4 linked regions of the Homo sapiens genome follow. The protein of the gene in region 2 purifies or fractionates together with the protein of the main gene of each other region. This does not show direct contact. Each region holds a gene or a part of one and is shown on either strand. Other genes may lie near its edges. The genes, in order: UBR1, SCML4, KDM5C and FBXO11.

Evidence for each region.
Region 1: the proteins of SCML4 (region 2) and UBR1 purify together in Homo sapiens (affinity purification with mass spectrometry; 3 studies listed by BioGRID and IntAct, with this or other methods). This does not show direct contact.
Region 3: the proteins of SCML4 (region 2) and KDM5C purify together in Homo sapiens (affinity purification with mass spectrometry; 3 studies listed by BioGRID and IntAct, with this or other methods). This does not show direct contact.
Region 4: the proteins of SCML4 (region 2) and FBXO11 purify together in Homo sapiens (affinity purification with mass spectrometry; 3 studies listed by BioGRID and IntAct, with this or other methods). This does not show direct contact.

What each region holds. Positions count from the first base shown.
Region 1 is NC_000015.10:42,942,389-42,949,057, forward strand, and holds the end of UBR1 (E3 ubiquitin-protein ligase UBR1), read right to left. Parts: intron 3,083-6,669; coding exon 2,941-3,082; 3' UTR 509-2,940; downstream 1-508. UniProt on the Homo sapiens protein: E3 ubiquitin-protein ligase which is a component of the N-end rule pathway. Recognizes and binds proteins bearing specific N-terminal residues that are destabilizing according to the N-end rule, leading to their ubiquitination and subsequent degradation.
Region 2 is NC_000006.12:107,821,297-107,828,517, forward strand, and holds the start of SCML4 (sex comb on midleg-like protein 4), read right to left. Parts: upstream 3,018-7,221; 5' UTR 2,830-3,017; intron 1-2,829. UniProt on the Homo sapiens protein: Putative Polycomb group (PcG) protein. PcG proteins act by forming multiprotein complexes, which are required to maintain the transcriptionally repressive state of homeotic genes throughout development.
Region 3 is NC_000023.11:53,215,191-53,222,217, forward strand, and holds part of KDM5C (lysine-specific demethylase 5C), read right to left. Parts: intron 5,727-7,027; coding exon 5,649-5,726; intron 3,209-5,648; coding exon 3,086-3,208; intron 2,777-3,085; coding exon 2,606-2,776; intron 2,088-2,605; coding exon 1,953-2,087; intron 1,008-1,952; coding exon 884-1,007; intron 787-883; coding exon 605-786; intron 1-604. UniProt on the Homo sapiens protein: Histone demethylase that specifically demethylates 'Lys-4' of histone H3, thereby playing a central role in histone code. Does not demethylate histone H3 'Lys-9', H3 'Lys-27', H3 'Lys-36', H3 'Lys-79' or H4 'Lys-20'.
Region 4 is NC_000002.12:47,826,497-47,833,523, reverse strand, and holds part of FBXO11 (F-box only protein 11), read left to right. Parts: intron 1-453; coding exon 454-560; intron 561-643; coding exon 644-755; intron 756-845; coding exon 846-952; intron 953-1,037; coding exon 1,038-1,175; intron 1,176-7,027. UniProt on the Homo sapiens protein: Substrate recognition component of a SCF (SKP1-CUL1-F-box protein) E3 ubiquitin-protein ligase complex which mediates the ubiquitination and subsequent proteasomal degradation of target proteins, such as DTL/CDT2, BCL6, SNAI1 and PRDM1/BLIMP1.

The sequences.
Region 1 (6,669 bases), on a different chromosome or scaffold from region 2:
ATGGTCTTGATCTCCTGACCTCGTGATCCCCCCACTTTGGCCTCCCAAAGTCATGCGATTACAGGCTTGAGCCACTGCGCCCGGCCAGAACATTCCTATTATTGCAAAACTCTTCTGGATACTGCTGCTCTAGACAGCTGTCTCCATATTAGAGCGTGCATACCCAAAAGGATGCAGATTGGATTGGAAGATATTTAAATATCTATTTCTATTTTTAACTGATTTTTAAATCTCCTTTTAAAGCTATGTTTTATAATTTGCATGATGTATTAGTAAAGCACTGCATATAGAATATAAAATATGTGTTATGTGTTTATATTCTATTTGGTATGCATGCTAAAAACTATTTATTGATGGAGTATATGGCTAAAAAGTTTGGAGACCCATGTATACTAAACACCTATGTCTTTTAAAACATTTGCCTCGGCTGACAAAGGTTTCAACTGGAGAGTCTTCCTAGCAGATTTTTATACTTCAAACCCAAATCCCCAAACATGAGAAGTCCCTATTTTTCTTTTTAAATATACACATATATTTTATTTTAAAAAGCACAAGAACATTATACAAGTTTTAAATTTACATTTTTGCAATAAAAGTTATCAATATATGCATTATTTGTATAACTTCATCATGGATGGAATTTGAATCAGTGGTATAAACATGTTGCAGTCACTAAATATAGATCATCATCACAGTGAACCAAAATGCATAGTTGTTATGAAATGACAAATGACCACTAAAAGGTGAACTCACAGCCCATACACCAATATAATAAATTAATTATACAGATATATTTTTCTTCACCATATCATTAAAATTCTCACTAGCCCCTTACCAAACATTAGAAAAACACAGTTCTGGAGCCATCCTGTTGAACCAGTGCCTTCACATACTACACTAAAGAAAATAAAGTGACTCAGTTGCTTGTTTGTAAGTAAACTTCATAAGCATAATTGTTTGCAATGATTAAGGTAAATCACTAGGACATTTGAACATAATGAGAAATCCCTGGGGCTTGGGGCAGCACTGAGACATACGCTCATCTACAGTGCAAAAATCTGAATCAATCTCAATCAGTGGAACGCAATATGAAATGGGTTCTTTGGCAGTAAAGGTCTGGCTGGCCATTGCCAGACAGTCCCTCTGTCCTCTTGAGAGCCTAACTCCAGAATTTATTAAGTTAATATAAAAAGGACTAAAAATAAAGTCAGTTTATCTTTGCTAAATTGGGGCCCATCTATTAGGGTAGAAGTCAGTATCTTCTGTTTCCTATTCTAGCCCAGATTTCCCAGTCAAACAATCCACTCAATACAATTATATAAGAAACAAACACACATGTTCAAATACTTTCATCATTCTGGCAAATCTGACAAACTGAATACTGAATTTCCTGATCCTTACCTGTTATTGTTACAAATTGTTCACTAGACATGTATCTATTTATCCAGATACCTTCTGAATTGTAATTATTCAAGTAGAAAATCATGATTGTGATTCTGACGCCTGCTCATGCCAATCCCTTACTGCAAAATCCACTTTTCTTTACATAAAAGTACCAAAAAAATCTAGCCCCAAATGTGCATCACTAATCACTTAGCAAATATATTTTACTTGCTTGCCTTTGCTGAGCAAAAAGAAGGTAGGAAAACATTTACACACATATGTGAGACACTAATAGCCAAGGGCAAAATAAGATACAGTCTTTGAATGCATCTTTCAAGGTTCTAACATTACCCCAGAAACAACGTAAGTTAAAATGGAAGGTTTCCATTTATCTTCTGCTGTTTTATATCACAATCTCTTGATACAAAAAACAAAAGCCAGGAACCAAGAAGTCTATGCACAAATTCAGGAGAGCTCTATTATTTATAAACAAGATGGCTCAACCACAGCATGTTATAACAGGACACAGACTATTGATCACATGGCTTTTTTGGTGGTTTGTACTAGTCATAAAACCAGAGTTTATGAAAAGGTTGCACACAGACAACATCAAGGATTTGTCTTTTACAAAGATATAGAAGACTGCGGAATTGGTTTAAATCTGATTGTTCTAATTTACAGTTGTCATGATCCACTCATTGCGAGAATTTTCTCATCTTCATTCTACAGTTTTTACATCAGAATTACAAGAGGTTTCTGAGAGTCAAACAGGATGGTGCCACAATCTCCTTGCAGAATGAGATTTGCCTTTGGAAAATGTCAAGTATTATTTCAAAACTCAACAAAGCTACTGGTAGTCAGAGGTGAGAACTGCAAGCTCTTTGTACCGTCAGGAATGAATAACAAATACATTACCCTAACTTTTCTTGAGGCCTACAGTGAGAAAAAAGCTTTTCCATATTGGCAGAAATCATCCTCTGTCCACATAGAGATTGAGTTTAATTTGTGGTGATAGCAGCAGGTGGCACATTAGGGGTATTTCCTTAAAAGAGAAATAATAAAAAATTTATTTTTGGAATCTTTCCCAAGTATATTGCATGGTTTCTGCAATTCTTCTTTAACTGCAAGGAAGACTATCACAGATTATTAGAATTTTGTCAGTGATCCAATGTCAGTTGAACTAAACTTGGGGGGAAAACACCAAATACAAAATTGCAGAAGAGTTAACCAACATATAAAATGTCTACAACTGTTTGACGTGACTTCATCTACCAAGTGGATGAAATAAAATGAAATGAGACAAATTATGAAGGGGAATAAATTCCTGGAAATACTAGCACATAAAACAGATTGATCTATGTCCTTTTTTCCTGTGAAGCATATGTTTGCTAATTGAAAGCAATACTCCATTAAGAAATATTTTATTGATGTAAGTGAACCTGGACATGGAGCAAAAGACCCTCCAATACTTTCCCAGCCCTCAGAAAGTTTTCCATAATTTTGAATCAGCCTTTACTACTGTCGTCATTTGTGATTGTCTTGAGGCAGAGTTGGAGCTCACAGTAACTGCCAGTTGAATCCAAATAACATCTGATTAGTCTCTTGGCTCCTAGCAATCTCTTCTATAATGCAGTGTTGTTGCCAGACCAAATGGAGCTTCCGATACCGCTCACGAGATAAATGAAGGGGGTTGCCCCTCCTTTAGGGAAAAAAGAAAAAACAACATGTAAGTTTGAATCTAGTAACTGCCACATCTTTATTGTCTAAATTAGTATGCACTCTTGAGATGTTCCTGGAGCCGGGAGGACTCACCAGCACAGGGCTTAAAAAGGGATATTTTCCCTTCACCATTGATCACTAAGAACTTGACAGGCTACTTAGCTAATAAAGCAGAAATGTACTCCTTGACCATTCATAAAATAGGTCAGGTATATTATGGCATTATGGGACCTCACTTAAATGGTCACTGAGGTTTATAACTTGAAGCAGCACTATTCTTTTTTGGTGGTTAGCTTGAATAGCTTTTTGGCTTCATATTGTTATCTAGCTTCAATTTATGATCTTTGCACAGTAGAGGTTAGGCCTGACGTATAACACTAGGCCCTAAAATTATATTTTGCTACTCAGAGATATTTGGTTGTAACTGTCCTTACGATACAAAAAACTGGCTGGTTATTAGCAAATAATTTAATAAAATAATTATACTTCAATTCTAGAGTTGCACAGTTTTTAACACTGTATAACAGCTAATCCAAAATGACTTAAGTCTGGCTGTTGCCAGTAACGGAGAACTGTGAGATCCTAATTCCTTGAGACATTCAAGTCTCTCAGCTGGTTGGGGATTTTTTTTGTTTTTGTTTTTGTTTTTTGGAGATGGAGTTTCGCTCTTTTTGCCCAGGCTGGAGTGCCGTGGTACGATCACGGCTCAGGGCAACCTCTGCCTTCCAGTTTCAAGCAATTCTCCTGCCTCAGCCTCCAGAGTAGCTGGGATTACAGGTGCCCGCCACGATACCTGGCTAATTGTTTTTGTATTTTTAGTAGAGACGGGGTTTCACAATGTTGGCCAGGCTAGTCTCGAACTCCTGACCTCGTGATCCGCCCGCCTCGGCCTCCCAAAGTGCTGGGATTACAGGCGTGAACCACCGCGGCCGCCTGGTTGGGGATTTTTAAACTGCCAAATTAATGTTAAAACTCTGCTTTGTACCCTTGTGGAACAACTAAGATTCTCAGTCATTAACTACTTTCACCACTCTGCTTTTCTCCCTAAACCTAAAGACAGGTCAAATGTCATCCCAATAAAAAGAAAGCTCTGTGTGATCCAAGGTCCCAAGCCCCATCTAATAAGTGTATTCTTTCTGAGCAATATTTCAAAGGAACAAAATTTCAGTGAACCAAAAAGAGTTTATTGTAAGGAGGTCTAATCTTTATCTATATGTACTTTTGAGATCACTGTCAGTCTCCTCATTTTCATAAGTCATCAGTAGGACCCCAGTTCCTACCACCAGGGAAGGATACAGAAAAGTTCAGGATTCTAAATATTTTGTTAATGCTCAGAAGGAAAGAAGGCTGATATAGCTGGCTAATAAAAAGTCTCAGTTGGGTGCAGTGGCTCATGCCTGTAATCCCAGCACTTTGGGAGTCCAAGGTGGGCAGATCAACTGAGGTCAGGAGTTCGAGACCAGTCTGGCCAACACAGTAAAACCCCGTCACTACTAAAAATACAAAAAAAATTAGCCGGGTGTGGTGGTGCATGTCTGTAGTCCCAGCTACTTGGGAGGCTGAGGCAGGAGAATCGCTTGAACCCTGGAGGTAGACGTTGCAGTGAGCCGAGATCCAGCCTGGGTGACAGAGTGAGAGACTGTCTCAAAAAACAAAGAAAAAAAAAGTTTCAAGTATTGCAATGGAAACAATATCTCTAAAACAAACTTCATCACTGGACACTACAAACTTATACTATCAGTGTCAATCCTTTTAAGTAGTTCTGAAGAAAGGTTGATTACAAACAATAGAACACTGAAACATTAAGATGGCTGGTGTCTTTAAAAATTTTGGGGAAACACTACCTTCAAATTTTGGAGAAGTTGTTGAAAATTATGTGCTACAAGACAGGGATGCCCTCTCTCACCACTCCTATTCAACATAGTGTTGGAAGTTCTGGCCAGGGCAATTAGGCAGGAGAAGGAAATAAAGGGTATTCAATTAGGAAAAGAGGAAGTCAAATTGTCCCTGTTTGCAGATGACATGATTGTATATCTAGAAAACCCCATTGTCTCAGCCCAAAATCTCCTTAAGCTGATAAGCAACTTCAGCAAAGTCTCAGGATACAAAATCAATGTACAAAAATCACCAGCATTCTTATACACCAATAACAGACAAACAGAGAGCCAAATCATGAGTGAACTTCCATTCACAATTGCTTCAAAGAGAATAAAATACTTAGGAATCCAACTTACAAGGGACGTTTAGGACCTCTTCAAGGAGAACTACAAACCACTGCTCAATGAAATAAAAGAGGATACAAACAAATGGAAGAACATTCCACGCTCATGGGTAGGAAGAATCAGTATCGTGAAAATGGCCATACTGCCCAAGGTAATTTATAGATTCAATGCCATCCCCATCAAGCTACCAATGACTTTCTTCACAGAATTGGAAAAAACTACTTTAAAGTTCATATGGAACCAAAAAAGAGCCTGCATTGCCAAGTCAATCCTAAGCCAAAAGAACAAAGCTGGAGGCATCACGCTACCTGACTTCAAACCATACTACAAGGCTACAGTAACCAAAACAGCATGGTACTGGTACCAAAACAGAGATATAGATCAATGGAACAGAACAGAGCCCTCAGAAATAATGCTGCATATCTACATCTGATCTTTGACAAACCTGAGAAAAACAAGCAATGGGGAAAGGATTCCCTATTTAATAAATGGTGCTGGGAAAACTGGCTAGCCATATGTAGAAAGCTGAAACTGGACCCCTTCCTTACACCTTATACAAAAATTAATTCAAGATGGATTAAAGACTTAAACGTTAGACCTAAAACCATAAAAACCCTAGAAGAAAACCTAGGCATTACCATTCAGGACATAGGCATGGGCAAGGACTTCATGTCTAAAACCCCAAAAGTAATGGCAACAAAAGCCAAAATTGACAAATAGGATCTAATTAAACTAAAGAGCTTCTGCACATCAAAAGAAACTACCATCAGAGTGAACAGGCAACCTACAAAATGGGAGAAAATTTTCGCAACCTACTCATCTGACAAAGAGCTAATATCCAGAATCCACAATGAACTCAAACAAATTTACAAGAAACAAACAAACAACCCCATCAAAAAGTGGGCAAAGGACATGAACAGACACTTCTCAAAAGAAGACATTTATGCAGCCAAAAAACACATGAAAAAATACTCACCATCACTGGCCATCAGAGAAATGCAAATCAAAACCACAATGAGATACCACCTCACACTAGTTAGAATGGCAATCATTAAAAAGTCAGGAAACAGGTGCTGGAGAGGATGTGGAGAAATAGGAACACTTTTACACTGTTGGTGGGACTGTAAACTAGTTCAACCATTGTGGAAGTCAGTGTGGCGATTCCTCAAGGATCTAGAACTAGAAATACCATTTGACCCAGCCATCCCATTACTGGGTATATAACCAAAGGACTATAAATCATGCTGCTATAAAGACACATGCACACGTATGTTTATTGCGGGACTATTCACAATAGCAAAGACTTGGAACCAACCCAAATGTCCAACAACGATAGACTGGATTA
Region 2 (7,221 bases):
ACCTGTCTGCTTTTGAAGGCAATGAAAACATTAAAAAATGTGTAAATCTAAAACTAGCCTTTTGAGAGATGGCAGAATTAAGAAATAAGATGTCTAGGGAGGCATTGTTTAAAAGTTCCTTCTTAGAAACATCAGATGTGCCCACCAAAAGAAAGAAGCTTGTGTGATCACACCAAAGGCAACTGCTTTCACAAACTTCATCCACAAAATGTTAGACAAGATTTTACGCTCCATGATAATCAGATTAAAAGAGGGTCTTTTCTCATCTCCTTTCCCTTCTTTCCCATTCCATCCCCACATAAAATCTGAGGGCTCAGGGGAAGAATGACACTGGAGATGCTTGGTATCCTAAGGCTCCCAGCCCAATGAGGGGTAGTGTCACCTGCCACGCTCTTCAGGACTTGTGGAGTGGGATGGGCACATCCCGGCTCCCTGGCATCTACCCATGTGATATTGAGGTTTCCGAGGGCAGGGACTTGGGGAGGAAAATTGTCCTGCAGATCCCTAACAGGGCCCCTGTGAGGGCTTTCAAGCTCCAGCCACCACCTCTGCCTGGACCAAAAGTTCTTTAAGGTGCGTGTCATAAAGGATGTGTGGACACATGTGTGATGTGTCCTCAGGCCACACAAAATTGTAAACAGACCTACGAAGCACTCTAACATTTAAGCCCCCAGACTCCCAGAAAGGTTATTCCTCTCCGAGCATTCCTTGTTATGATTTCAGGGAACTTCAGTTATGTTTCCTTAAAAGTATTGAAGTATTTGAGATCCAAAATTGAGATTAAAAATACATAAACAGCAGAGATGATTTTCTCATCATTTCAAATTTTAAAAATTAAAAAAGTCTATCTTTGTACTTTGGGGTAGTGCTTGAATTTTTTAATAGGAAAGTGTTACTGAGTATTTTTTTAAAGTCAATATTGTTTTGAACTCTCATTATAAAAGTTCTTGCAGCAAGTGACAGTATTTGGGTCTGGCTTGTTTTCTGTGGGCTGAGCTGCTTAGCTTACCTGCTGCTTGCTAGAGGAGACAGCCTTTCACCCTCACCCCCAGGAGTCAAGAACCAGAAAGTGAAACTGCTTCTGCTGATTTCCCTCGCCTCGAAAACACACCACCAAAAGCAAAGAAATGATGAAAAGCAACTTACTCGTTTCGCTTATTGTTTTCTTGTCTTTCTATTACCGTTCATTTACTCTTTTCTTTTTTTCTTTTCTTTTTTTTTTTTTGCAGCAAAATAAAAGTAATTTTGGGGACACAGGGAAGAAATGTAAACATGTTATACATGAAAGAACTGGATTTTTGTGGGCTTTGCACTTTTGTTATAATTCCACAAATGAAGCAAACTGATGAATTTACCAAAATATTTCAGAGCTCATCTACGTACACAATTTAAAGAGCTAAAGAAAACACATTCATATTTTTTAAAAATTCTGTCAAAAAGCCTGTTTAAAAGTTATAGTTTGTGAAGCCACCAATTTCCCTAAAACTGAAGATTCTACATTAACCTTTTGAGTTTAGACGATCACGCAGTACCGATTTTCTAGGTAATCTTCACCCAGCTGCTGTTGCTCAAACAGCCCCTCATTTTATCAGACTAGTTCTACCAAGCAACACAAAAAATGCTCCACACAAATATTATACCCCCCAGATAGTTTAACACACTAAGAATTCCTTTGTAGTTATTTTTATGCTTTCACTCCAGATATTCTATTTTGCTTTAAAAAAAAAAAAGTGGAGAAAAAAAGCAGCTATATCCCTCATTCTTCAAAAATGGTTCCTCTGGTTGAAAAGAAAGAAAAACAGCATATAACAAATACCCTGATTCTGAAGTGCCTGGATTACTTTCTCAAGTACTGTAGTGTCTGAGATCAGTAAAAAACCACTTTCTCAGAAAGCCACTGATTGTCTAACCCTCATGAGTACCGTCATGGAATCTAGAGACAACACGAGGAGACACCTCTCGTTCACGATCACAGATAGTGGAAAGAACTTTGACTCAAGCACCTCAACTCAGCAAAACAGCTCAGCAGCCTGCACCCTGGCCTCATCCACCGCTCCTGTCCAGCCAGCAATCAACCTGGAGAGGACCCCTCATGCTTTGGGAGGAGCACGTGGAAGCTGGTTCAAGTCACAGTGCTCCACCTGGGAAGGAGGTGATTTTGAGCTTGGGAAAACTGCCGCTAATACTCCATAGTCACCAGTTTTTTTCCCAAAAAACGAATTAAAACCAGAAACTAGCAGTAAATATTATTCTTATTTATGCCTCATAAATTAGGAAAAACCAGCACAAAGACATGTGAAATATTCTACCTGGGATATTTGAAATAAAATTAAATGGGAAAAAAAACACTTTTACATGTTCATAACATACCAATTTTAATAACCAAATTTTAGGTAAATATTTTTATCCCAAGACATAGTACAATTTTTTTAAAATTAAAAAGCAAAACAAAGCAAAATTATCGTGAAGGGAAAAAATAACTAACCGGTTACTTGAGTTCACATTTGGAAAAAAATAACTTTCTAGGTATTTAAATGCAGAGTTAAAGAGTAATGAACATGTATATAGCCCAAATTTATAAACTATATAATTCAATGTTACATTTTCCCCTCTGAGATCTGGTTAATAAATTAAATGCTGTACTTTGCATATGAGGAACTAAAGTTTACCTACTGGACTCAGTGGTTTTAGTGCAGGACACTCTTGTGCGTTGCCATAGAGGTAGGCATGCAACCCAGAAAAAACTGAAACAGGTAACCTGTCATGCTGACAGTTACAAGAGAAAGATCCCGTGTCAACGGCACGCCTCCAATTGTGCATCTCCCTTACCTACAGCTTGTTCACCAGAGCCCTGAGCAGGTTGTTTACCAGGTCGGGAGTGTTGACTCAGAAGACAGATGACTTTCAGCACATGCAAACCGAGTATTGCAAAAGCTATCTTCCACCCGTGTTAGTAGCTCACAGTTAGTCTCCAGCAGCCCTGCGCTCCAGCTGCAAACATCTCATTAGACTAATGCATTCAGCACAGGCAGAAAACTCGATTTACCATAGCTACAGCAATGAATTTCCATTACGATGACAGCTTCAACCACATCATGTCCGGAAAACCAGCCAACCACTGGCTTTTAAAGAACACACACATTTTACATGCAGAAAACGAGGCCTCTGTGTGTGTGTGTGTGTGTGTGTGTGTGTGTGTGTGTGTGTGTGTGTGTGTGTGTTTTGTGTTTCCTTCCTCTTAGCAGCCTAAGAGAAATGTGCAGTGTAGCTTTTTGTCGACATGAGCTGCAAGGTAATGACACTTCTGCTTCTTTGGTAGTTACATCCTTGTAATAACCTGAATTATGTCACAATGGTTAGAATGGGTGTTTCCAACATTTCAGTTTTCATTACCCCTCCTCTGTTGCCATAGAAACCAGACTGTAACATCGTCTCTTTGTCCCAATCCTGCAGCAGTGTGGGCCAACACCAGGCTTATAAGACACTGGTGATCTGACAGAGTGAATGTTTGACTTTGGACAAATAAAACAAAAAGAAATATTACAATAGCATCATTGTTCAGGAGACCCTGTGTGATTCCCAGAGCAGTGTGCCTATCCAGGTGTGTGCACACACCATGGTTGTACATATTAAATCAGCGGCTGCCCACAACATATGTGTACAGTTCATTAAAGCCGGCCCTGACTTTGGCTCCAGGCCTGTATGTGTGTGTGTGTAAGCATCTCTACCCACCTCAACGTGGTGGGACCTGCACAGGATAGAAACAGGGCAAGAGTGACTATTCATTCCCATGCCCCATTGCATTTTCTGCAGCAAATCAATATATATCGGCGAAGGGATCTTTTCTTTTCCTTTCTTTTTGTAAAGTGGAGCAGGGCTCCCCATTGCCCATTTCATCCACTCTGGGATATTGGCATATTCACAGGTATTTCCTACAAGATGAAACATCCATTCTACAAACATGTGGCTTACTCCTAGGGATGAGCAGCAAACAAATTTAGCCGGGACTAAATATCAACCAGGGCTAACGAAGGCTTAGGCCACAACCTGGCCAGTTACTGAGAGTGAAAAAAACTGCAATGGACAACTTGAGGTTTCTCTAAATATATGTGTAGAGTCACATTAGAAGTACATAAGAAATCTCTCCTCTGAAATTTATTATGAAAATATAAAAAATTGTTTTAAGTCAAAGCCTTGTAATTAATTGAGCAAGAAGAAATTCACTACTTTAGTTCATTTAATCATCAAATTTTGTTGTTTTGTATGGGAAAAGGCAGGTTTGGTAGTTTGCATTTTCATTTCATATAAGTTGATTTCACTAAAGAAGGAGGAAGAGGAGAAGAAAAGAAAATAAGATGGATGGGCCAGGTGCAGTGGCTCATGCCTGTAATCCCAGCACTTTGGGAGGCCAAGGCGGGTGGATCACGAGGTCAGGAGATCGAGACCATCCTGTGAATGGTGAAACCCCGTCTCTACTAAAAATACAAAAAATTAGCTGGGCGTGGTGGCGGGCGCCTGTAGTCCCAGCTACTTGGGAGGCTGAGGAGGGAGAATGGCGTGAACCCGGGAGGCGGAGCTCACAGTGAGCCGATACCGTGCCACTGCACTCCAGCCTGGGTGACAGAGCGAGACTCCATCTCAAAAAAAAAAAAAAAAAAAAGAAAATAAGATGGATGGGCTAGGTGTGGTGGCTCATGCCTGTAATCCCAGCATTTTGGGACTCCTGGACTTGAGGTTAGGAGTTCGAGACCAGACTGGCCAACATGGTGAAACCCCATCTCTACTAAAAATACAAAAATTAGCCAGGCTTGGTGGCGCTTGCCTGTAATCCCAGCTACTCGGGAGGCTGAGGCAGGAGAATCGCTTGAACCTGGGAGGGAGAGGTTGCAGTGAGCTGAGATCACGCCATTGCACTCCAGCTTGGGTGACAAGAGTGAAATTCCATCTCAAAAAAAAAGAAAAAAGAAAGAAAAAGAAAAGAAGAAAAGAAAAGAAAAGAAAGAAAAGAAAAAGAAGAAAAGAAAAGGAAAGAAAAGGAAAGAAGATGGATGATTTAAGTTTGGACAGCATCTCTGTCCCAGCGACAGCGGTTATTATACTCACACCCGTGGCCTCACACATGCCACACTACACTGAGCTTAAAGCACCTGGAATGGGCTGAGACATTAGACCAATTTTCACTCTAAAATGTTTCTTAGGATTAAAAAAAATAACATTTCTTAAGTAATCAGAAATAATCTCCAAGTCCTGTAAAAGAAGTAAAAGGGTTGGCAGAATCTACCCATAAGAAAGGAGTTGCTGGTTTTCCTACCCAGCTCTGTGAGGGTTTCTCACTCTGATCCTCAGGCCCAACCTCCTTGCCTCCTCCCAGATGGGCTACTGTTGTCCTTGTCCTCAAGGTGGGTGCATGTGGGAAGCACCCATTGTCATCTAACAGGTCAACTTGGTAATAAAGCCTAAAATTGAAATCAACAAAAGCTGGATTGCTTGGGCGCGGTGGCTCACGCCTGTAATCCCAGCACTTTGGGAGGCTGAGGTGGGCAGATCACAAGGTCAGGAGATCGAGACCATCCTGGCTAACACGGTGAAACCCCGTCTCTACTAAAAATACAAAAAATTAGCTGGGAGTGGTGGCAGGCGCCTGTAGTCCCAGCTACTTGGGAGGCTGAGGCAGGAGAATGGTGTGAACCCGGGAGGCGGAGCTTGCAGTGAGCCGAGATCACGCCACTGCACTACAGCCTGGGCGACAGAGCGAGACTCCGTCTCAAAAAATATATATATTTTTTATATATATGTATATATTTAAGTAAACAATATTTATTTACTTAAATATGTTATTCAAAATATTTGATATTTAATAAATTATTCATTAAATTATGTAATTTAATAAATTTAATAAATATGTAAATATATTTATTTAAATATATCTTTATATTTTTATTTAAATATATTTACATTTTTATTTAAATATATATTTACATTTTTATTTAAATATATATTTGTTTTTTACTTAAATGTATATTTTTATTTAAATATATCTTTATATTTTTTACTTAAATTTTTTTATTTAAATATATCTGTATATACACACATTTATTAAAATATATATATTTAAACTTACTGGGATTTCTTTCTTCATGCAACCAGGAACATAGCTTTTAATAACTTAAATCAATATTTTAAAAAATCCTAAATGTTTTTAATTCCAAGAAAAATTTAAGTTAAACATGTAAGAAAAAAGAAATTTGATGGGATGACTGGTATTAGCTGAGGGACCTGCTAAGAAGAAAAGTGACCGCTCTGAGCTAGCATCTCTCTAAGTCTTGTACATCCCTGTCCCATGAAAAGGGTGCTTAGGTTGTGCCACGTTGTTAATTTTCTTTGCACTGTGGTTACATTTCTGTCTCAGACCACAAGCAGCATGTTCCACTCTCTCCACACGAGTGCTACTGGGCTGGTGGTTAGCAGGAGGCAACCAGAGGGAGCAAGTTAATTTGGGGGCGTCCCAAATGCAAATCTACTTAGAGTAGCCTCCATTTGAAGAGTAATCCTTCTGTCAGCTGCTGGTAAAGACACCGTTCACATTGAAAATGGCCTTTGTCCTAAAGAGTTGTGTTTTCCAACACAAGCATCCGATCGAGAGGATTCTGTCTTGGACTGGCAGTCAGTGCTACCGCCGAAACAACCTTTGTTATAACAGTGATAGCTAACATTTACTGAAGAATTATGTGTGAAGCCCTTCCCATTTTGTATCCCATTTATGACAATCCTATGAAGTAGGTATTATGATACCATTCCCATCTTACAGATAAGGAAACTGAGACTTAGGGATGTTAAATAACTTGCCCAAGGACACACAGCTTAGAAGTGGTAGACACAGGTCTGACCCAGGCAGTCTGTGCCCAAAGATACTCTAATTAATCATTCCACCTCATGGATCCTGGCACTGCCACTTGTTCCAGCCCTACCACTAACCCAATGACATGGGTGAAATCATTGACTTTCTATAACACGGGACAAGGAAATAAGGGACTAGATCATCTTTGTGGTCACTTATGGCTCTGACATTTCACAAGCCTAAGAACTGCTTTATCTCTAACTCAAAACATCGGTCTGCTGAAACAGGATGACGCTTTGGGTTGGAGGAGTGCTTAGTTGTGATTATGGATATGGCCATAATTACAAAGGGGCAAAAAGTGTCCTTTCTCTCATTAGGATAAG
Region 3 (7,027 bases), on a different chromosome or scaffold from region 2:
CACTGTGGGAGCCTAGAGAAGGAAGCACTCAAAGCAGCTGGAGATAAGGAGGGATGGCCTTGAGAAAGGACTTCATTGAAAAGGTAACACCTGAAACTGGCTGAAACCTGAAGGCAAAACAAAACATGGCAACAGGGCAGAGCACAGGGGGAATCTCTTCCAGGCTGAAGAAACAACATGTGCAAAGGATAGGGATGAAAGAGCATACTGCATCTTACGGGGAAAAATGAACATACCTACAAGGAGTTCAGTGTGGCTATAGCAGAGGAGTGAGGTGGGCAGTGCTGGGGGATGAGGCTAGAGGTCAGCAGGGACTGGATCATGCATGGTAATGAGGAGCTTAGCCTTTATCCTGAAGCAATGGAGAGTGAGACTCCTTCTCTGGACCCTTCCAGCACTTCATGTTGACAGCACTTGATCACCCTTTCTTGCTCTTTGTTCCATATGAGTTGGCTTTGTTTCCCCAATTAAGTGAGCTACCTGAGGGCAGGGCCCATGGAGGCCCGCTTTTGTGGTTAATGCGAACTGGTCCAGTGCCATGCAGGGGAATGCTTATTGAAGGGACAAGAAGCAGAGCATTAAGAAGTCAGGGCTGGGTCCTTACAAACTGGGCATTGCTGTGGTTCCTCCGTAGCCTCATGGTCATCTTGGTGCAGGGTTCTGGGCTGTGACTCAGCTCCTCCTTGCTCTCCAGGAAGGTCTTAGGCGATGTTGACTCCACCTTCACATCCCCACCTAACTCCTCCTTCACCACTACTGTGGGGGGACACTCAGGCCCCTCCTTATCTGGGAGAGAGAAAAATGGCTGTAAACACAGGTCTAGGACACTTAGGGCCCTGACTTTTCTCCCCAGGTGAGGCCACCCCAGCCTGTTAGGCCTTACCTTTCTTCCGCAGAGTCTTGTCTTTGGCCATGAGGCCCAGGCCCATCATCTTGGGGCCTGCCCCATAGATCTGTAGCTTTTTCAGCTCTGGATTCTTCTCAATGTCTTCCTCTGTGGGTTCCGGCTGGAAGGAAAGAAGGAAATGAATCAAGACTGCTATCTGGGGCAGACTGTCCCATCCTAAAAGAACAGTAACTCGGACTACATATCACCTGATCTCATGCTGAGGGCTGAGGCACAGATGGGCTAAGCCAAGAACTCAGAGTTGCTTTTTGGAGACTGAGGGTAGGTGAGCTGCCCCCTCGGCCCTCTCTCAGAAAGGAATAAAAGACAGGATATCTCAGTTTTCCCAACTGTAAAATGAGAATATTACCTCCTCCCTTATAGTTATGAGGGGGGTTAGGGACAATACATATGAAAAAGCTAACAGTGTTTGGCATTACCAACAAATGGCAGTCTAATAGGATCTGCTAAATTACATGCTTCGATGAGCCCAGGGACAGTGTCCATCTTGTTCTCTATTGTATTCCCAGTGCCAAGAATGCCTGGCACATAAGCTTCTGCCTGAAGACATAGCTACAAGGAGCTGGGAACAGTGGTACACACCTGTAGTCCTAGCTACTCCAGAGGCTGAGGTGAGAGGATCACTCAAGCCTAGGAGTTCAAGATTATAGTGCATTATGATCAAGCCTGTGAATAGCCACTGTACTCCAGTCTGGGCGACATAGCAAGACCCTATGCCTCAAAACAAAACAAAACAAAAGATACAGGTATAAAGAGAAAGAAGAGTTCTACTTCTATGAGCAGAGTAAGTCCGGAAAGGAACAAAACAGGCAAGAAGAGCAGACATACAAAAGAGGTTGCACAAACAGATCAAGACCCAGCTCAGCAGCTCAGCTGAGAGGGGAGAAAAAAGCAAGAGTGAAGCCAGAGAGAGGCACACTAATGCTCAGAAGAACTCAGAGAACAAAAGAAGGGATAATGGAACAGGGAACACAGCCTTAGCCAGAAGGAAGGAGAGGACTCCCTCCACCTCAAAGCTCTAAGTTCGAAGAAGGGGAGTACTCACATCAGGCTGCAGTCTCTTGGCCCGCCGGCCATAGCTGTTGAACTTGGAAGGCTGCACAGACTGTCGTAGGGGGATGCTGTGGGGTTTGTATTCCTTGTCCTTCTCCTCATTATCAAATGGACGTGTGTTACACTGCTGGGGACAGGTAAGGGGTAAGGGTCAGGACATGGACTCCAGCCCGCAAAAGCAATAACTTCCCTCTACCCTCACCCAATGGCATCCAAAGCTGTGGTCCACTCACCTGACCCACACCAACAGCCCCTGTTCCACTGGTCTTTAGCACTGACACCAGCACACATTTTGGGAATTCTCAGTACCTTTGCTTGTATCACTCCTCCCTTCCAGTCACTTCCTCCACCAACCATCTCCCCAACTAAATCAGACGCCATCTCTTCCCACACCTTCTAGCCCAAGCTCTCCCTTCTCTGATTTCTCTATCAGTTAAAACTTTGTCACATAACAAATAAGCTAGCCGTACAGATAACTCCAGGACCTCTGACCCTGAGCAGTGTAGAAAGAGAATAAGCATCACTAGGAAAGAGCAGAGTCCAACTCCCAGGTCTCCAGTCCACTAAACCAGTTTCATTAAGAGCAAGTGTGGAAATCTGTGCTGAAGGGTAAAGCCGCACCCTGCCCCACTGTGACATCCTTACCACAAGGTTGGCTCCAGACTGGTACATTTCATAGGGATAAACAATGCGTTCGTAGTGGGAGCGTAGCAAGGAGCCAATATTTTTGCCTGGTGGATAGTTGAGGCGCTGGGCTACCCGAGCCCACCGACGGTCCTTGCAGATAGCTTCATAACCACCTTCCTCCACCACAATCTGAAAAAACAAGTAGGAAAAGACATGGATGTGCCACGTGTATTTATATGTGAGGGAGTAGGCCTGTAGAAAGGGCAAAAGGGCAATGAGGGCAACTCTAGTCCCTCACTTCACTGGGGGCTATCCCCTTATCCCAACCTCAAATTGCAGCAAAAGATTCCAAGATGTTCTGATGACAGCTTGTGTGCTACCAAGCTGTGCCCCTTCCATTGCAGCCTAAAGATCTAATATCCAAACTAAGGGGGCCCCCAGAGTATCAAGGATATTGGGGTTTGGTGGGAGGGGTGCTTGACAAAAACCTGTTCTTACTTTGCTGAGACTGTAGAGGTCCAAGATCCGCCGTTCTACATTGGGAATCTTTAAGGAGGAGCCCTGGATTTCCCAGAATTTGGCAATCTGGTCCAAGTAGTTCAGTTTCACTCTCGTCTGGGCCTGAAGAAGAAATGGCTCAAAGAGGCTGGCCACCCCCTCCCACTGACCACTATCTTTGGGTCCAGTCTTAGGGGAGAACAGAGGAATACAGCACTCCACACTTTCACTACCCAGGGTTTCTCCCAATGAACCGGATCCCAGACTCTAGGCAGTGCTTAGCCCCACCTCACTCTCATTTCTTTCGTTTTTGTTTTTTTGAGACGGTCTTGCTCTGTCGCCCAAGCTGGAATGGAGTGGTGCAATCACGGCTGACTGTAGACTTGACCTCCTGGGCTCAAGTGATCCTCCTGCCTCAGCCTCCTGAGTAGCTGGAACTATAGGCGCACGCCACCACGCCCGGCTAATTTTGTATTTTTTGTAGCAATGAAGTTTCACCATGTTACCAGGCTGGTCTCAAACTCCTAAGCTCAAGCAATCCATCCACTTCGGCCTCCCAAAGAGCTGGGATCACAGGCACAAGCCACTGCACCACTGCACCCAGCCACCTCTCTCTCATTTGTCACCTTCCAGTCAATCAGAGAAGCCCAAGGTCCCAATAGAGAGGGTCACAACTGCCAAAAGCTTTAGATATGTCCTCTAATCTCCCTGACAAGGTCATGTGAGTATTATCATCTCCTATACAGATGAGGAAACAGAGGCTCAGAGGAGTTAGGACACACAGCAAGCATCAAGATATTTTGGTGCCAAATAATTTGAGCTTTGGCTCTCCCTCTGCTACTGATTTGCTATGCTGCCTTGAGCAAATCAGTTCCACTGTGGACTCCTTTTTCCTTTTACTAATAATTATAAAAGGAAAATAACTGCACAGTCCACTTACCCCAGAGGGGTAGACTTAATGAGGGGACCAGTGAAGATCCTCTGCAGATTTCAGAATTATATCTAAGCTCTAGGCATGTTTCAGAGAAAGCAAGCTCCAAAAAGGCACATGCACCTCCTTATGTACCACCAAACTTGTTCCATGGTGGCTAAAGGGTGAAAGTGCATGCTATAACTATAGACAGAATGGCCTAGAACTAAGAGATGGTATATCAGAGTAGCACTAGCACCTGGCCAACCCAGGACCCAATGTGGGCCAAGGAGACTAGAAACAAGATATGTATGATGCTTCCCTGAAATCTCAGTAACCAAGAAGGACTCCCATAGGCCCCAAGTCTACAACCTCCTCACTCCAGTCAGAGAGCCTGGTTCTTGGAAGAACTAGATAGTCATTACCATTCACTACCTTGCCCTGATCCCATTAGGGGGAACAAAGACAGCTCTTTCCATTTCATAGTTGAGAAAAACTAAGGTCTATTTGTAGAAAGAAACAACCTACAGTTCCTTGGCTGTGAGAACTCTCAAAGGGCAAGGAAGTGCTCCTTCAACCTCAGCCCCTTAGCTTTCTGAAGTTGGCCTCATCCCTGCTCCTTCTTATTAGTCAGCACTCCCTCTACAGAAAACCTGCCCTTGTGTCATGCTAGGCAACATCTTGCCCAAGCTGTACCCCTATAAACCTGACAAGATATATTTTTCTTTTCTGAGATGGGGTCTTGCTATGTTGCCCAAACTGGTCTTGAACTCCTGAGCTCAAGCAATCCTCCCACCTTAGCTTCCCAAAATGTTAATAGTGCCGAGGCTGAGGAACTCTGGTCTAGAACACAAGTGAACTTTTAGGGTATAAGTATTCAGCTGGGCCTGGGCCTAATGCCCCACCCCTTGGACATCTATTAAGATTTGTGGGTACATAATAATGGGGGAGGGAGTGGCAACATATGCCTAACCTAGAGCTGCCATGGAAAACTCCAGGATCTTACGTGGAACTGGCTTTAGGGAACCTAATCTCACTACCCCAGGGCATTCTCAAGCAGGAAAAACCCCACCTGTCCATGAAAAGGGCCTGGACTTCCTGTACAGAACAAAAGGGAGAAGGAAAATCCTACCTGCCTGACCCCTGGCCAAGTCTCTAACCATTCCAGCCTCCACAGAGCCCAGTTCTTGTGTTGTTCTGCCCATCTACCCAAACTCCCACCTTACCAAGCACCCATGGAAGCAAAGTAGAAAGCACAGGGCTGTGGATGAATTGGATATATGAAGCCACATTCAGCTGGCCAAGGAAGAAGGGGTATCAGCCAGTTCCATAATTCCTTTTTGTTGACTCAGCTAGGGTAGGCTAGTTTACAGGGGAGTTTCAGAAGTAGCAAACCTTTGTGAGAAAGGGATATATGTCCCCAGCCTTTGGGCTATCAAATCACAAATGCTAAATGCCCCTGGCTCTTGGTTATATTTAGAGCTCTAAAGCTTCTTCCACGCCCTGGGCACACTAAAGTAATGCAATTTCACAGAAGAGAGAATAAAGGCCTAGCTAGGTAAAGTACCTCAGCCAGAGAAACTATAAGGGAAGTGGGATTAGAACTCAGGTATACATTCTCCCAACCCCACCACCAGCTCCTAGTCTTCTCACCTCTAGCTCATTCAGCCTCTGGATTCGGGGGGTAAACCTGAAGTTGTCCACTTCCACAGCAAAGGGTGGCTGCCAGTCCTGAGAGGGTAGAGAGGGGAAAGGGACTTGAGTTATCTCAGCATAGTGTAAGACCGGAAGTCACCAAAAGCAGCTCGGAATCCCACTGGCACCTTCCCAAACCTCTAGCCACTCCAGACCCTTTAACCTGCAAACATCCTACCCAACCACCCACCCCCACCTCCCCCCAGAACTCACAAGAGTCTAGCAGCCCCTCAAGTCTGCACCCAAGGCCCCATGCACATGCCCTAGGAAACTTCTCCTGAGTCCCACCCAACAGTACAGTGCCAGGATTTCAAGAAATTAAGAGATGGAGCCTCTGTTTTGTTGACCCTAAACCTTCTCCACACCCACATTAATTCCTTATCCCCTAGGCACGTGCTGTAGGACACACAGGCCTGGGAGTACTGGAAAGCACACAGGATCTAGAGTCAGAAGATATGGGTTCATGTTCTAGATCCGCTACTTACTAGCTATGAGATTTTAGCTTTCTGAACCTGTTTTCTCATCTGTGAGGTGGGAATATGAACTCTAGCCCTGGCTTCCTTGCCAGACCAATATGGAAAATTAAAACTAGTTTTCAAATGAAAATGTTATTCAAAGGAGTCACCGTTATGACCTGACATCTAAGGCTGACCACACCTCACAATACACATGCAGGGTAGCTCAGGTCCGATTGTGGCAGGACGTAAAGGTTTGGGCCTTTAATGTTTGTTCTCTCAGTTTAAAGGGCCTGAGATAGACACTGCAGGGAAGAGCAAGGAACAGGGAGCAAGTATGTGTATCACTCACCCAGTCTGGAAGGCTTCCTGTAGATCCTCTCTCATACACCTGCCTGGTACAGGAAGAGGCAGGGGAGGAAGCCCCAGGGGGTGGGGGTAAGTGCTGGGATGCCTGACTGTGGTGGCAAAGAATGGGAGGATTTGGGGAGGGAAGTCAGGGAAAGATCATGAAAGTGGGAGACACTCTGCTCTGCCAAGTTGGAGCTTGCTGTGTCCTGCCCAAAGGTCAGCTGTGAAGAACCCCCTCTCCAACACCCCTTTCCAACCTCCTATGCAGACCTCTCCTTCCCAGAGCCCTGGCTCCTGCTGGGGTGGTGAAATCAACCTAAAGTAACCTAAACCAATGTTCTCATTTTATAAATGGGGAAAGTGAGGCTCAGAGAAAAAAAGTGAAATTTCCAAAATTACATGCTGAGTTAGTGGTGGGGCCAAGAACCCACGTCTTCTGACCTCTGATCCAAGGCCTTTGCACTACACCAGACATCAATGTTCATACATACATGCATACACGTGGGCGGGGGGGAGAGACAGTGAAAGAGA
Region 4 (7,027 bases), on a different chromosome or scaffold from region 2:
TTGCTTTCTTCCTCTATCTCCTCATGAAGATGGGGAGAATAGATTAGAGCAAATGTTTGTCTGGTGATTTTATTACTTTCTAAATCGAGGCCACTGTTGGAAATAAATTTAAATAGAGGTCTCTTCTCTTCTTGAGCTTCTGTTTCCAGTGCTGCTGCTGGAAACAGAATGGTTTCCACAAGAAACCATTTTTTGTTTTTGTTTCCACAAGAAACCATTTTTTAATATGCCGTTGCATTTTATATTCATAGTATTTATAGTTAAATGTTATTAGAAGTAATACTGTGCATGGATTTGAATATAGCAAAGGCTGATGATGAAACATAGTTAACTGATAGTGAATATTAGTCCCACTACTCAGTACTAATGTTTTTAGTAAGTTCCCCCTCCATAAAGATACCCATCTGTTGAAATCGAATAAAGGTAATATTCTTTAAAATATCTTCTCCACAGCACCTGGGAAAGTGGCAGACAAAGTTATAATTGAAAACACTAGAGATTCAACCTTCGTTTTTATGGAAGGCTCTGAAGATGCTTATGTTGGATATATGACAATAAGGGTAAGACATGTTAAGATTTAAAATACACATTGAAATCATAAAGGCAGTAATTGTTTATTTCAAACAAAATTTTTACTTTTCAGTTTAACCCTGATGACAAATCTGCACAACACCACAATGCACACCACTGCTTAGAGATTACAGTAAATTGTAGCCCTATTATTGATCACTGTATCATCCGAAGTACATGTACAGGTTAGTGTTTTCTTTATATTTTACAATAAAATTTTGAGTCACTGTATGTTGCCCAGTAGGTTTTTACATAAATAAATAATTTTTCTACAGTTGGTTCTGCAGTATGTGTTAGTGGTCAAGGAGCATGTCCCACCATCAAGCACTGTAACATCAGTGACTGTGAAAATGTTGGACTATATATAACAGATCATGCACAGGTATTTTTTAATTTTGTGTGGTTTTTTTCTTTTTAGAAAATGTTTAAAAGCTCTACTGATGTTTGTTTCTGATAACTTGTTGTAGGGAATATATGAGGATAATGAAATTTCCAATAATGCGTTAGCTGGGATTTGGGTTAAAAATCATGGAAACCCAATTATTAGACGGAATCATATTCATCATGGACGTGATGTTGGTGTGTTCACATTTGATCATGGCATGGTAAGAACACTTATTTTTAATAGAAAAACGGACTTCTGTATCAGTTAAATTCCAAGTATGTTTCAGCATTATTTTCTCATCACCAAATTATCTGAATTGAAGAGTATAGGTTTAAAAGCAATTTCAGCATTATTTTTTAAAATTAATATGAAATATTTATTCTGTAAATTTATGCATCAGACATATCCATGTAGAGGTGATAGCGTTCTTAGGCAATATATGTGATCTTTGAGGGGAGTAAGGTATAACTCGTTAATTAAGTCTCAAATGTGTGTTCATAAAAGCCACCCAAAAGCTTTCTGTTTTAAAGAAAATTCCTGTATCCTCCAGTTTAATAAATCAAAATTTCCAAGGATGGGGCTTAGAATATGTATTTTTAATAAACAACATAAGTGAATCTAACACAGTTTGTAGAGTATACTTTGAGAAATAATGGTTTCATTGTTATTTTGCTTTTCATTTAATTCCTCTTGAAAATTTTAAACTGGCAGAACTTTAATAGGAGATACATTGATAAAATACCAATTTTAAAACCATTATGCAGCAGTTAATATTAGGCATCCTTATGGAATATACTGTGTTTTAAGTATTACCTTATAGTTTTACATAATTTTCTAGAGACATGACTTTTTGAGCTCTGAGATCACCATTTCAAAATAATGTTTTGAATGTCTTTTCAGATTTTTTTTCATTTAATGTCAAATTTTCCTTGAGGTAATTTTCAAGTCCTAATACAGCATTGGTAAAATTTTTTGTTGCGGAGTCCAAGATGGGAGAGAGGGTCACCACATTGTAGCAAATAGGATTATGGTGAGGTTTTGTTGCCTATTATACAATATTAAGCAATCCTGGGAATGTTGGATTCATCTATACAAAGAAATTTTTTTATTTTCATTTTTCTTTTTTTTTTTTTTTTTTTTTCTTTTTGAGACCGAGTTTCACCCTTGTTGCCCAGGCTAGAGTGCAATGGCAATGGTGTGATCTTGGCTCACTGCAACCTCCACCTCCTGGTTCAAGCGATTCTCATGTCTCAGCCTTCCAAGTAGCTGGGATTACAGGCATGCACCACCACGCCTGCCTAATTTTGTATTTTTAGTAGAAACAGGGTTTCACCATGTTGGTCAGGCTGGGCTTGAACTCCTGGCCTCAAGTGATTCACCTGCCTCGGCCTCCCAAAGTCCTGGGATTACAGGCATGAGCCACTGCGCCTGGCCAAGGCAGAGCTCTTTTTTTAAACTAAACTAGACCATGGCCGGGTGCAGTGGCTCACACCTGTAATCCCAGCACTTTGGGAGGCCAAGGCAGTTGGATCGCTTGGGCTCAGGAGTTCAAAACCAGCCTGGACAACATGGTGAAACTCTGTCTCTACAAAAAATACAAAAATTAGCTGGGCATGGTGGCTCACACCTGTAGTCCCAGCTACTTGGGGGCTGAGACAGGAGGATCACTTGAGCCCAGGAGACGGAGGTTGCAGTGAGCCAAGATGTAAGATGTGTGCCTTTGCATGGGATTTCAGGCGTGAGCCACCACACCTGGCCAAGTTCATCATTTTTGAAAGACCTCTGGTGATGGGATGGTCCCTTATTAAAGTTCACCATAGTAAGTTACTCCTCATCACACACACACTCCTTATACCATTTTAAAGAATAGATTTGGGCTTGTAAATATCACAGCATTTTTAAAAATAAGTCTAGACAATGCTATAGATAGATATTTCCATTAAGGATTAATGAGATTTATACATTTTAAGATTTATAAAGTATTTCAATCTATCTCCACCCCATCATTTTTATTTTTATTTTGCAAAGGTTTAAAATATTTGCATTCCTACAGTTATTGGTCTATATTTATTCTTTATTTATTTATCATTAGTTCTTTTATCATCGTTTCTCCATTCTTGAATTTAAATTTTGATTCATTCTTGGTATGGCTAGGTTTTGTCATCCAGCCATTTTTTGTTTGTTTTTTTTAAAGAACGCCTTATGGATATTGTAGCTTGAATTCTTGCCATGCGAGAATCCCTATCCATTGCCTTTTAACTTAGCTGAGTTTCTTTCTTTCCCTCACGATTCTGTAGACATTTTTCTATTGTAGCATTGAGCATGGCTGAGAACTCTGAGATCACATTGGGTTTTTTTCTTTCTTCTTTGCTTGAAAGATTGCTCTTCTACCTCAGTATCCATATTTTGGCTTTTGCTGATGTATTGTTTTACTATTTTTCTGTTCCATATGTTCCTTTCTTTAGAAACTTAGCTATCTTTCTGGTTATTTATATTGCTATGTTCTGTTCTGTTTAGTGTTGTGTGAGTTCCTCAAATCTGTGTTCCTTACCATGTCTCCGTGGTTTTGTTTTTCTGCTGCTATTTTGCTTCCAGTGTGGGTGTTGCCTTTAATTTTTACATTTTTTTAATGAAATATTTCTAACGTACACTGAAGTAGAGAGAATAGTGTAATGACTCTCCAGGTACCTATTGTCTGCCTTCAACAACTATCATTTCATGGCCAATTTTGTTTAATGTATACCTCATACGTTTTACTACCTTTTTTACACTCTGGATTATTTTGAAGTAAATACCAGACTTCATCATCTCTTGTAAATATTTTACCATGTGTCTTTAAAAGATGGGTGTTTTTTTTTTCTTTCACATAACCACAGTGCTAATCCACTCCTCAATAATTAGGAATAATTCCTTAATATCATCAAATTTTCTCTTAATGTTCACAGTTCTCCAATTGTCTTTTGTTTGTTTAATACTCAGTTCAGTGCAGAGTTGTTACTTTTGTAAAATAAGATTAAAATGTCATAGCAGGCCAGGTGTGGTGGCTCATGCCTATAATCCTAGCACTTTGGGAGGCCGAGCAGGCAGATCACCTGAGGTCAGGAATTCGAGAACAGCCTGGCCAACATGGTGAAACCCTGTCTCTACTAGAAATACATAAATTAGCCGGGTGTGTTGGTGCACGCCTCAAGTCCCAGCTACTCGAGAGGCTAAGGCAAGAGAATCGCTTGAATCCAGGAGGCAGAGGTTGCAGTGAGCCGAGATCGCGCCACTGCACTCCAGCCTGGGCGACAGAGCAAGACTCTGTCTCAAAAAATAAATAAATAAATAAATAAAATGTCATAGCAGTGCCAAATAACTATAAAATTTTTTGAGGCCGGGTGCAGTGGGTCACGCCTGTAATCCTAACACTTTGGGAGGACAAGGTAGGCAGATCCCTTGAGCCCAGGAGTTCAAGACCAGCCTGGCCAACACTGCGAAACACTGCCTCGTGGTGGCGTGTGCCTGTAATCCCAGCCTCTCAGGAGGTTGAGGCATGAGAATCACTTGAAGTGGGGAGGTGGGAGGTGGAGGTTGCAGTGACCCAAGATCATGCCACTGCACTCCAGCCTGGGCGACAGAGGAGTGAGACTCTGTCAAAAAAATAAAAAAATTCATGGCATATTCATGCCATTAGATTTCATCACTTTAGTTAGAAGATAATAATAAGCTAAGCTTATTATAGCCTTTAGTTACTTGGGGACAACTACACTTCATTGAAAGTCTAAGGTACTAACATTGGTTAGTTCCCAGCACCCTCCTCTTTCTTACCCAGATTTCACAGTATTTGGTAAGTGTTTTTATAGATTAGAGTTGTGGAAGTTTATTTCTATGAAGATAGCATTTTTCTCTCTTTTTTAATCTGGAGAGTTTCTTGTGAAACTCTTGAATGCCTTTTATTTTGTCTTTTTTTTTTTTTTGAGACAAGAGTCTCACTCTGTCACCCAGGCTGGAGTGCAGTGGTGCAATCGCGGCTCACTGCAACCTCCACCTTCCAGGCTTCAAGCAATTCTTGTGTCTCAGTCTCCCGAGTAGGTGGGAGTACAGATGCCTGCCAGCACGCACAGCTAACTTTTGTGTTTTTAGTACAGACAGGGTTTTACCATGTTGGCCAGGCTGGTCTAGAACTCCTGACTTCAAGAGCTCCACCGCGCCTGGCCTACTTTGTCATATTTAATAAAGAATGTTTTACTTCAAAAAATTTATACATGTTGGAACTTTTGTGGTTTGCATTAAAAGACAAAGCAGAGGCTGGGCACAGTGGCTCACACCTGTAATCCCAGCACTTCGGGAGGTTGAGGCAGGAGGACTGCATGAACCCAGGAGTTCAAGATCAACCTGAGCAAGACAGACCCTATCTCTACTAAAGAAATATTCTAAAAATTAGCTGGGCATGGTGGCACACGCCTATAATCCTAGCTACTTGGAAGGCTGAGGCAAGAGGATTGATTGAGCCCAGAAGTTCAAGGTTGTAATGACCTGTGATAGCTCCAGCTTGGGTGACAGGGAGATTCCCGTCTTCTTAAAAAATTTTTTTCAGCCGGGCTTGGTAGCTCTGTAATCGCAGCACTTTGGGAGGCTGAGGCAGGTGGATCACTTGAGGCCAGGAGTTCGAGACCAGCCTGGCTAACTTGGCAAAACCCCGTCTCTACTAAAAATACAATAATTAGCTGGGCATGGTGGCACCCACCTGTAATCCCAGCTACTTTGGAGGCTGAGGCACGAAAATTGCTTGAACCTGGGATTTGGAGGTTGCAATGAACCAAGATCATACCACTGCGCTCCAGCCTAGGAGACAGTGAAACTCCACCTCAAAAAAAAAAAAAAATCTAATTTCTTACAGTTCTGTATTATTGATTTATTTTGTACTAGAGGTATTGCTTAACAAAATAGTTGCATTCTATTAAAATACGTCTTGAAGCAGGCCGGGTTCAGTGGCTCATGCCTATAATCCCAGCACTTCGGGAAGCCGAGGCGAGCAGATCACTTGAGGTCAGGAGTTCCAGACCATCCTGGCCAACATAGTGAAACCCCATCTCTACTAAAAATACAAAAATTAGCTGGGCGTGGTGGCTCACACCAAAAGTCCCAGCTCCTCGGGAGGCTGAGGCAGGAGAATCACTTGAACCCAGGAGGTAGAGGTTGCAGTGAGCCGAAAGTGCGCCACTGCGCTCCAGCCTGGGCGACAGACACTCTGTCTCAAAAACAAAAACAAACAAACAAAAAAATCTTGAAGCAAAATTACATTAACTGAATCCATAATAAAAATAAGTTTTCTTGCAAAATTATAAAACTATAAGTCAATCAATCTTTGTCATTTCTAAAGGTAGTAAAATCATTGTTGTGCCAATGTAGAGGCTTCTCATTTTAAGGTCGTTGAGAAAAGAAAACTTTTTGCTGCTTTATTTTCTTGAAAGTTACTCTGAAACAAAAGATACAGATTATAAACTCCATATTTGATGGAATTAGGTGACATATTTAATCCTTAACCTAATTTATTAATACAATGTGGTAAATGACTGCATGCCTGTGACCAGGGCAGCCAACCAGATTGGAGCAGGTTAAAGCTCCAATAAAGCTGTTCAGAAAGATAAATTGGTAAACCTAATGTAAATGTAAATGTATTAAGAGGTGATTTATAGGAGATGATGCAGGAGAATCGCTTGAACTTGGGAGGCAGAGGTTGCAGTGAGCCAAGATTGGGCCACTGCACTCCATCCTGGGCAACAGAGTGAGACTCTGTGTCAAAAAAATAAATAAAAAGAAGAGGTGATTTGGACAACTAGCAACAAGTTTAGGATAGAGTTGTCACTAGAAAGCTAAGCAAAGGAGAAAAAAATCCAAAAAATTGTGCAGCAAAGAAGTCATATTTTATGGCTCAACTCTGAATAGCACACTAATCTAACCAAAATTAAGGTTAAACTACACTGAAAGGATACAATGTGTGAGTATATATTGTGGGGGATAGAGAGGTAGGAGAGCTAAATTCTGCTGTCCCATAATAGAAGTCAGTGGATAATACCTAAAACTGGA